Regions from separate parts of the Homo sapiens genome. Here region 1 is reported to be linked to region 2. The links are microRNA targets in miRTarBase. Many come from high-throughput screens and were not tested one by one. Region 2 holds a microRNA gene; the other region holds the end of a gene's coding sequence.

The links. The annotated mature microRNA hsa-miR-4755-5p reads UUUCCCUUCAGAGCCUGGCUUU and lies in region 2 at 3,076-3,097, opposite strand. An mRNA with a match to its seed (bases 2 to 7 or 8) in the 3' UTR can be bound and repressed. Matches are read on the target gene's strand: a 7mer-m8 pairs with bases 2 to 8, a 7mer-A1 pairs with bases 2 to 7 and ends in A, and an 8mer does both.
Region 1: miRTarBase lists BCL9L as a target of hsa-miR-4755-5p. Seed matches in the 3' UTR shown: 7mer-m8 at 2,335-2,341.

Annotation. Positions count from the first base shown.
Region 1 is chr11:118,893,982-118,899,039 of GRCh38, reverse strand. It overlaps BCL9L (BCL9 like), which reads left to right. Exons shown (of 10, transcript NM_001378213.1): 10 at 1-2,904. The coding sequence ends at 625. It overlaps CXCR5 (C-X-C motif chemokine receptor 5), which reads right to left. Exons shown (of 2, transcript NM_001716.5): 2 at 1,253-5,058. The coding sequence ends at 4,377. Among named protein-coding and RNA genes, the nearest start is that of CXCR5, 13 kb to the right of the region's middle. RefSeq lists enhancers at 391-898, 2,518-3,276.
Region 2 is chr20:34,047,152-34,052,224 of GRCh38, reverse strand. MIR4755 (microRNA 4755) reads right to left here and starts at 3,106; the gene lies at 3,035-3,106. All of the region lies in intron 2 of RALY (RALY heterogeneous nuclear ribonucleoprotein), which reads right to left.

The sequences.
Region 1 (5,058 bases), not on the chromosome of region 2:
ATACCCACCGGGTGTGCTCCCTGGGGTGGCATCAGTGCTGAACGACCCCGAGCTGAGCGAGGTGATCCGGCCCACCCCAACGGGGATCCCCGAGTTCGACTTGTCGAGGATCATCCCCTCTGAGAAGCCAAGCAGCACCCTCCAGTACTTCCCCAAGAGCGAGAACCAGCCCCCCAAGGCTCAGCCCCCTAATCTGCATCTCATGAACCTGCAGAACATGATGGCGGAGCAGACTCCCTCTCGGCCTCCCAACCTCCCAGGCCAGCAGGGCGTCCAGCGGGGGCTCAACATGTCCATGTGCCACCCTGGACAGATGTCCTTGCTGGGCAGGACAGGCGTGCCCCCACAGCAGGGGATGGTGCCCCATGGCCTGCACCAGGGGGTCATGTCCCCTCCACAAGGCCTCATGACCCAGCAGAATTTCATGCTGATGAAGCAGCGGGGCGTGGGGGGCGAGGTCTACAGCCAGCCGCCCCACATGCTCTCCCCGCAGGGCTCCCTCATGGGCCCCCCGCCCCAGCAGAACCTCATGGTGTCCCACCCCCTTCGGCAGCGCAGTGTGTCCCTGGACAGCCAGATGGGCTACCTCCCGGCACCAGGCGGCATGGCCAACCTGCCCTTCTAGAAGTCGCTGCCAGGGCTGGAGCCGGGGCAATGTTGCAAATACGATAACCTTAACAAAGTTCTTCCCCTCAATGTTGGGATGGCCTGGGTCGCGGGGTGGGGTGGAGGGGGTGGGAGGGGGCTTGTGTAGGGAGTGGCATTTGTGGAAACCAGATGTGCTGGCAGCTTAGGGGGAAGTGGCAGTGTGGGGTGGGGGATTTTGCATTGGGGTTGGTTCCATTTCGGCCACCAGGACTGCCCCTCCCCCACTCCTCCCAATTCCTATGGAGCCTCTCTATTTTACCTCTTTCCGTGCATCCCTGCACCCGCCACACCCCCTTCAGCTATGCTTTTGGAGTCCTGGATGGGAATCTGGGGGGAGAGAGGAAGGACAGGTCAGGTCTCCCCCAGCCCCTTCTGCTCCTGTCTCCTCGTGTCCGCATTGCTGGAGCTCCACCTCCCTCTTGGTTTCTCCGCACCCGCCCATTTTCCTTCTGTCTTTACCTGCTTCGTATCCTTTCCCTGCTGATGTGGCTGACCCCTCTCCCACCCCTCCCTGCAGGCGGCTGGCCAGGTGGGCAGGTGCCAGCCGGAGCTGTAAATAGAGCGCTGCGCTTTTGTGCTGGTTTGTGCGTGTGCTGTATTTCTGTGTTTTGATAGAAGTCACACAAAAAAAAAAGGATAAAAGAAACCCTTCCCCCCTTCTTCAAGTTATTGCTCCCTCCATTCCCCTGGACCCAGGGACATGCAGCCCTACATGGCCACCCACTGTTTGCAGTGTCTCTGGGTCCCTAAGGGATACCATTCCTGTCTCGTCCCCAAATGGTAAGATGACGTAAATGACCCACTCCTAAACTGAGGTCAGACCACCTAGGCTTCCACCTGGTGAGCCCTAGCAGGGCTGAGACCCCCAGGGCGGCAGCCTGTCTGCTGCTGAGTGATTCAGGGAGAACATGTGTGCACGTGCATGTGTGTTTGCCCACACCGGTGACACGGGGCCCTGGCTTTCCACTTTGGATGCCCGGGCATCCGCTGCTGCTACATCTTAGCCAGAACTTGAAGTCTTTTGTCCCAGTTTGGGATGAAGGAAAGGAGGAAGAGGCGGTGGCTGTGTGGCCCCCTTGAGTGGAGCCATGGAAGGGGTGGCATGGTGCCACTGGGGCCTGTGGCTGTAGTAGCCCTGGGCCAGGTAACCTCCAGGGCCCTGACTTTTCCAGAGGCTGCTGCCACCTACTTCTTATCAAAGAAGGGGGAGAACAGTTCATCTGAGTCAGTGCACCTCCCCTCCAGTCTCCACTCCCTGAGGATGGAATCGGGGAAACAGCATCCTGCCGCCTCCTCTCTGCCTGCCCACTCACCGGCAAGGTTGTCCCTCTGCCCAGGGCTCAGGGCCATGTACCAGATCTGTCTGTGCCCACCCAGGCACAGCCACTGCCTCCCCCTTGGCTCCCTGCTCCTACCCAGGAGAGCTCCCTATCCGCCTTTGGTCAGAGCTGAAGCCATATACGACTGGGTGTTTGTCCCCCTACTTTGGCCCCAGGAGTAAAAAAACTTCTCCTTTTCTCACTTCCTTTCCTGCCTCGGGAGGTGGCAGGGCAGTTCCCTGGCTGAGGCCTTTTGCGCCCCACCTCCAGGACCAAGGGCCATTCTAGACAGGGTGTCTTCTACCAGGACCCGTCCCTAGCCTTCCTGGCCTGGAGGGCCTGGTCTTGCACTGGCAGCTGTAATACAAAGGGAACTCGCCCCACTTCTCCCAGCCTGGTGCTGTCCTCTCGGCCCACCATCGGCCAGGTCCAGCGCTTCCTCTGGGGCTGACAACAGGCCCCTGACTCACCCCGGTCACCTCCCAGGGTCCATGGCCAGGGCCTCTGTGTTTGGGGGGCCACTTGCCCTTCATCCTGCCAGGCGCTTTGCCCGCCCTGCCTCAGCCTGGGCCCTGTGCCCTTGAGCCCTCCACCCCTGGCCCAAGACCCCCCCAAACTGTCTGACTCTGTGTTTCCTGCCCTGAGGAGAGAGGGGTCAGATTGCAGCGGGCCGAGTGCCCTCTCCGTCCCCTCTCCTCCCACCCACGCCACAGGCCAGCCTACTCTTCCCTCCATCCATGGCCACACCCCCAGCCATTTTGTACCATTATATAAATATATATATAAATATAAATATATAAATACAATATGTGAAGACATCTTCTTGGTTTTTATTTTGAAACAATTTTTAGGCTTGTTCCGGGGGTCTCTGTGCTGCCTGTACTGTATTGACCTGTTTTATAGGTGCCTTTTTATTAAAAAGAAAATTCAAAATCCAGCCTCTTGCCTCTTTGCATCTGCTTCAGACTCCCCCATCGATTACCCAGCTTGCGAGGAGATACTCAGAGAAAAAAGGGACGTCTTAGGGCTTCCTCGTTGTCCTGCCGTGAAGACACTCTCACGTGAGCCACAGCTGTTATTTCCCCAGTGGGGCCTCCCAAGGAGCTTGGCTGCTTGGCTTGAGTGGGACAAGGGCAGGGGTCCCTGACTCCCCACCTGATCAAAGGCTGGGGAGGTGGTAGGGAGCACCCAGAACTGCCGGACGGGCCTCCCACACCCCAGGTGAGCAAACAAGCACGGAGCAGCTTCCTGCGGTTCCATCTGAGTGACATCCTCACGGGGGCAGGGCACGGCTTCCTGGGGCCTGGGGACTTCCCTGCCTCAGTGTGTTTCTTACACTTCCCTGCCTAAGGTGATGCCACGGAGGGGATGGTTGAGATGACTCCCACGGGCCCCTTCCAGTCCACCTTTCTCCGTTCCGACTCTGAGTTTCCTCGGGTCTATAGCTTATGGGAAGGGAGTGAGGAGGGGACAAGCCAGCCTCCTTCCCCATCAATGCCCACAACCTCCCATCCCCTGGACCCAGCCACCCTAGGAGTTCTCCACCCCACCCCATCTCGCCTGGCGGAGGGGACCGCCGGGTTTGATTGATCCATCTCCCTCCTTGGGGTTCGGGAAGAAAGCTCTTTTCTTCCCTCTGTCGGGTTTCTTTCTTGCTTCTCGGCCTTCACGCTTCCTCAGGTCACTGGCTGGCCTCCAAGGGCACCTAGAGTCAGCCCTGCCTGCAGACCACCCAGGATCCGGTGACATGGGGTGGACCCAGCGCTGTTTCGGTCAGAGCCAGGGGCAGCTACCTGAACTCAACCAGTCTGAGCTTCCTGCTTGGTCAAGATGACTGCAGGCTTGGGGGCCTGGCAGAATGTCTGTGTTTTTAGGGACTGAGTTGTCCGAAGGCCACACTCTGCTGCCAGCTGGCCTTTCCTCAGCCTTAACCTCCACTCATCCCCTGGTGCTCAGCTTCTGGCTTTGTTTGACAGGTGGGCAGGAGGAGAGAGGGGAAGCTGTGGAGGTCAGCAGCCCCTAAGCTGATGGAGTGTGTTCTGGGAGGGGCAGGCGCTCTCCGTTGGCAAGGGCAGAAGTAGAAGTTGTTTCTTGAGCATTGGATGATTAGGATGGGAGGTGCGTGAGGTTCTCTCAGCCCAGGGGGGTGCAGATGGGTAAGGACAGCCTTCACTGTGCCTTTGAGCTGCTTTCCGCTCCCTGGGCTCCAGCCTAGCCCCAGGGCCGGCAGAAGAGCTGGCAGGGATGTTCTAGAAATGGGGGTTGGTTCCTCTAGCTACCCCAAATGAGGATACTCCTAGGACACTCTTAGCCACGGTGAGCCCTTAGGATCCCAGCTCCTGTTGGAAGGAGCATCCAGCATCACTGCCTGCCCCAAGGAAAAGCAGCAATAAAAGGGGACACTGGGACCTAGAACGTGGTGAGAGAGGTGGCATTCTCTGACTCAGAGAGACTGCTCCTGCGCCAGCTAGGGAAGAGCTGGCACAGGGAGGCAGGGCCGGTACAGCCCAGCTTCGTCAGGAGCCGCGACAGGTCACTGCGGAACTTCACGCCGGCGAAAGTGTAGAGCATGGGGTTGAGGCAGCAGTGGGCCAGGCCCAGGAACTCACACATGGTGATGGCCACGGGGAGAGAGCCATTCAGCTTGCAGGTATTGTCCACGGCCTTCAGCCTCGCCAGGGTGTCCAGGAAGATGACGATGTGGTAGGGTGACCAGCAGAGGAAGAAGATGCTTGTCACCAGGATGGCCACCCTGACTGCCTTCTGCCGCTGAGGGCGCCGCTGGGCCTGGCGCAACCTGTGCACTACCCCCACGTAGCACCAGCCCATCACCAGCATGGGCAGCAGGAATCCCGCCACATGGTAGAGGAATCGGGAGGTGAACCAGGCATGCGTTTCTGCTTGGTTCTCTTGGGAGAAGGTGCAACGTGGCAGGGAGTTGTTGTGATGGCCTTGGCTGACTTTGGCGAAGAGAATCTCTGGCAAGGCAAGGAGGAAGCCCACCAGCCAGATGGTCCCACAGGTGATGTGGATGGAGAGGAGGCGGCGGTGGCGGTAGGCATGGACGGCGTGGACAATGGCCAGGTAGCGG
Region 2 (5,073 bases):
CCAAGAGACACACACAATAAGGGTCTGCAAAGGCAGCGGTAAAGAAATTTACTTATTAGCATTATTCAATCTGATGTTTCCCAAATTATTAACATCTCTTCTGAGGAAGACACAATTTGAGGAAGACACACTGGGACAGATCTCTAGGGTCCCTGTCAGCTCTAACCTACTGTGATTTGCATCAGGAGTACTTAGCCAGTGCCTGGAGCACCCTGCTTCCCTTCTTATCCAGTTCTCTTAACCTAGTGAGGCATTTAAATGATACTCTGGTTAATGAGAATTTATTATATGTAGTCCATTTTACTGTAGTGAAAGTATCAGGCTGGGCGCAGTGGCTCACGCCTGTAATCCCAGCACTTTGGGAGGCCAAGGCACCTGGATCACGAGGTCAGGAGATGGAGACCATCCTGGCAAACACGGTGAAAACCCGTCTCTACTAAACAACAACAACAACAAAAAAAATTAGCCAGGTGTGGTGGCAGGCGCCTGTAGCCCCAGCTACTGGGGAGGCTGAGGCAGGAGAATGGCATGAACCCAGGGGGCGGAGCTTGCAGTGAGCGGAGATCACGCCACTGCACTCCAGCCTGGGCAACAGAGCGAGACTCTGTCTCAAAAACAAAAAAAAAGTATCAAATTTCAAAGACTCAGAGTGCAATATACTGAAAACGCTATCCTATGAGATAGGATACCTGCAGTTACTAAGCTCCTAACACATGTTCTGTACTGTGCTAGCATTTTCCATTAATTATATCATTAAATCCATACACAACCATAAGGAGTAGACATTGTTATCCTCGTATTACAGAGAAGGAAACTGAGCTCAGAGAGGCCAAGTAACTTGCCAAAGGTCACACAACTAGAAAGTGGCGAGCACCAGATTTCAAACCCAGGAGTACTCATTTTCCAAATCTTGGTTCTGTTTTGGGCTCTGCCACCATGACTATCAGATGGTCCCTAACTCTCTTTAAAGCTTCCTGGGCCTTAGTTTCCTCAACTGTCAAGTGGGAATAGTAATCCTTACACTGCTTCCCTCACAGAGTTGCTCTAAGGTTCAAAAGCAGTAACACGTATGAAAGGGGTCTGTAATATATAAAGATGTGAATATTAGGGGCATTTGAAACATCATGAATAAACGTTGCTATTTCTGTTCATGAATTTTAAGCTGTTTGTTCTTGCAAGGTTCCCAGTCATCCCTTCCCAAATAGTGCTCCTTAAAATTTTCATCAGGATTTTGAATAAACAGGAAATATGTCCATTTCTCTCAGTATTGATTACTCTCTAGGCTGTCTGACAGACTCACACTAAATTGCCAATCTGCTTCTTAGGAGTCAGGAGTGAAAACATCAGAGTGGGTGAGAGCCTGGTGGGAGGCCTGTGAGCTGGGAGTTATCTGAATAGAGATAGCATACTGGCTGTGGGGCTAGACTCCTCACCATCATCTTGGAACATGGCTGGGAAATAGGTCCAAAGGGTCATTTGGACAGCAGATCCCAGCAGCCTCTGTATGAGATCTGTCCAGGAGACTAACCCCATTATATGGGATGGCAAGAGGGGGAGGTGACTGGAAATGAGAAATGGGACCAGGCTGACCAGCTACACTCTCAGATAGAGACTACCCTGACAAGGGCCTAGGCACAGACACAGAAGTAGTTGGGTGCAGGGCTCTCAATTCATCCTTCAACCCTGCCTGATATCACATCCTCATAACCCACATTGCTGTGGCCATCTGCTCCCTCTAGTTTCTGGCAGATTAAGGCCAAAAACAACAGCAAAGCATTTTTGGATCAAGGTCCTGCCTGGGGACAGAGAAGTAAATAATACAAGTCCCTGTTCTTAAGTAAGGCACTAGACCAAGACGGTTTGAGCCTAACTAGAGGCTCTCTTGCATAGCAAAGTCTCTGGCACATGGGTTATATTCAAGAATTGTTTGAACCGAACTGAATCAAAGGAACCTACATTCTGCAAGTTAAGAGCACCTGTTTGGTGTCAGGAGCCCAAGACTTCTAGATTCAATCCTGGTTCTGACATGTACAATTCAGGGACTCTGGACCTCAGTTTGCCCATCTGTAAAGTGCACTTTGTCTACCCCACAAGTTGCTATGAGTAGCCAATGAAGTAGTGGCTCAGTAAATGGCACTCTGTAAATGGCATGAGATGGAACAGCAGGAGCTGATGGGAGCACGGGCGCACATGATCTTAAAAGTTTAGAGTCCAGCCTGAAGAAGACCTGAAATAAGCTCCTTTCTTTCTCCCCAGTCAGCTTAGATCTGCTTTTCAAACACAGCAGACATTCTCTGCATTTCTGGTGACTGTGAAAAGGGGAAGGGGATAATTTGCCACTAAGTAGGGGATAGAAAGAAAGGTTGCCATCTTTATACTTTTCAAAATAAGAGCACGGGATTTGGATTTATAATCCTAACTTTTGTTAATCAAAAGCTGTGAAACTATGAACAAGCCTCAACCTCTCTCAGTTTCCTCATCTGTACATTGTGGGGAAATTTCCTAAGTCATAAGATTGCAGTTAAGGTTCAATGAATTAATGATGTCAAAAGTGTTTTGAAATCCACAAAATGCCAAACAAACGCCAATCATTACAAAGTTGTCTGTCTTCTCATCAGTTTACCAGCTACATAGGACAGTGGTTATTTACCATTTGACAGGTGAGATCATCAAAGCCCAGAGAAAGTGCTTAAAGTAACACACAGCTCAATTCTGACTTCTTACAGCAGAGGTAACTGTTCCTTTACTACAGGGGTTCTTAATTAGCCTGCTTGCCTCATTAAACTGACAGATCTCTGAGGGAGGGGACTACATACATCTTACACATTTTTGTACCCCAGTGCCCATCATGGCACACCTAAAAGATGTGAAGTGTTACTAGAATGATGACTAACATATTGGTAGCAGAAACATATCTAGAACTCAGGACTCCTAATCCCAGATCCAGGGTTCTTTACAACCATACAGTGGCCCAAACCTCATAGACTCGGCTTGCCTTAACATCTCATCTCTTCCTCAATTCTCCACTCTAGCAAGATTCAACTTTCCCTTCAGAGCCTGGCTTTCATAGATGCCAAAGCCAGGCTCTGAAGGGAAAGCTGAATCTGGCTTTCATAGATGCCAGTTCCTCAGCCATAACCTTCCTCATCTCTCCTTGCTGAGCTAATTCCTATCCATCTCTCAGACTTGGAGGCCTTTCTAATCTCTCCTAATACTGGGTCAGGTATTTACTTTCCTCCATGGCTGTTTTGTTTATCACAGAGTCCTGGCACACAGAATGTGTTAAAAGTATCTGTTGAAGGCTGAATGAATGAAACACTGGGTGTAGAAATCCAAAGGTGATGCAGAGAAAATTTTTTTTTTTTTTTTTTGAGACGGAGTCTCGCTGTCTCCCAGGCTAGAGTGCAGTGGTGCGATCTCGGCTCACTGCAAGCTCTGCCTCCAGGGTTCACGCCATTCTCCTGCCTCAGCTTCCCGAGTAGCTGGGACTACAGGCGCCCGCCACCACGCCCGGCTAATTTTTTGTATTTTTAGTGGAGATGGAGTTTCACCGTGTTAGCCAGGATGGTCTTGATCTCCTGACCTCGTGATCCACCTGCCTCAGCCTCCCAAAGTGCTGGGATTACAGGCGTGAGCCACCACGCCCGGCCGCAGAGAAAATATTCTTGACCTGGAAGTCATGCAGCCTGACTGATTCTAATTCTAACTCCACTACTAATGCGTTTCGTGATCTTGAGCAAGTCCCAGTTCTTCTTTGGACCATCTATAAATGAGTTACACAGTATGATCTCAGAAGGTCCCTCCATTGTTAAAAGCATATGAGACTTAGACTCATGTGAAGTCCTAGGGATGAGGAGATTCCAAAGCCAGCTATATGCTCCATAGCATAGGAGACCCAACACTCTCATCCCCCCAGGAGCACGAGAGACACACGACTCTGCTGTCAGGAGCCTCCCAGCCCATTGGTTTACTTAATTCCTCTTGATGAAGTGCCAAGAATAAATCGTAGGTGAGCAGCAGAGCATTTTAACGAGTCCAGAGCCTAATGAATCTTTTCCTTCCTGTGTCAATTAGAATTTCAAAGCTAGGATCCCCAAGGACCAATTTATTGGGAACAGAGAGAAGAAGCCTTTTGTTCATCAGCAGCTGCCTGAGCTACCTGCTCTGCTCCTGTATCTCTGCTGTGTAACAATCCTGCTTACTCAGATATAACATCTGGCACAATAAAGCCTGGCCTGGAGGCTCCTTCTTGCCCAACATTTCTGGGGTCTGAACTTGAGGAAGGAAACAAGGGTCCAGGGTATTTCTGAGGGCAAAGGTGGGGTTGGGGGTTGGTCAGGGAATCAGAGCAGTGCTGACGTTGCTGCTATCTCCTAGGGATACTGGCCTTCAAAGAGCTAACAGCCACAGATCACCAGGCTACTCACCCAACTAAGTATCTGGTACTGTGTGGCACCTATTTACCTGTTATTTTAAATCCTCACAACCTCAAAAGCAGATATCAACCACATCATTTTAGAGAAAAGGAAAAAGAGGATCTGAGAGCTAAAGGATCAGCCTAAGGAACACAATTATTACAGTAAATGGCAGAGAAGGATTTGAACTCAGGTCTGTGCGACTCCGAAGACTAAAGCTCTATCAAACCAATACAACTCTGCCAGGAGCTGATGTCTTGAATGGCAGAGATGGCCCATGGTCAGCCATAGACACATTAGGCATTTGCCACCAACACACTGTCTTTTGCCCGGGCACATGCAAGAGTGGCTGCGCATCACCAGTCCTTCCATTCAATGGAGCTGGCAATCCTCCATCCCTAGAAGATAATCCAAGCAGAGTCACCATCAACACTGCCCCCTGCTCCTACCCCAGAAACCTTTTATTTGTGAGGAATTTCCAATTCTTGATCTAATGGCTCCCATGCACCCAGTTCTCCACCTCCCATACTGTCCGCTCTAAGTCACACAGGGCCAGCCCAGGTACTACTGCTCTGTATTCAACAAAGACACATTTTCCAAGGTCAGCAGATTAGCAAGTCAGGTTTCCAAATGTAACTAGTGTTGAATTTTAGGGCTC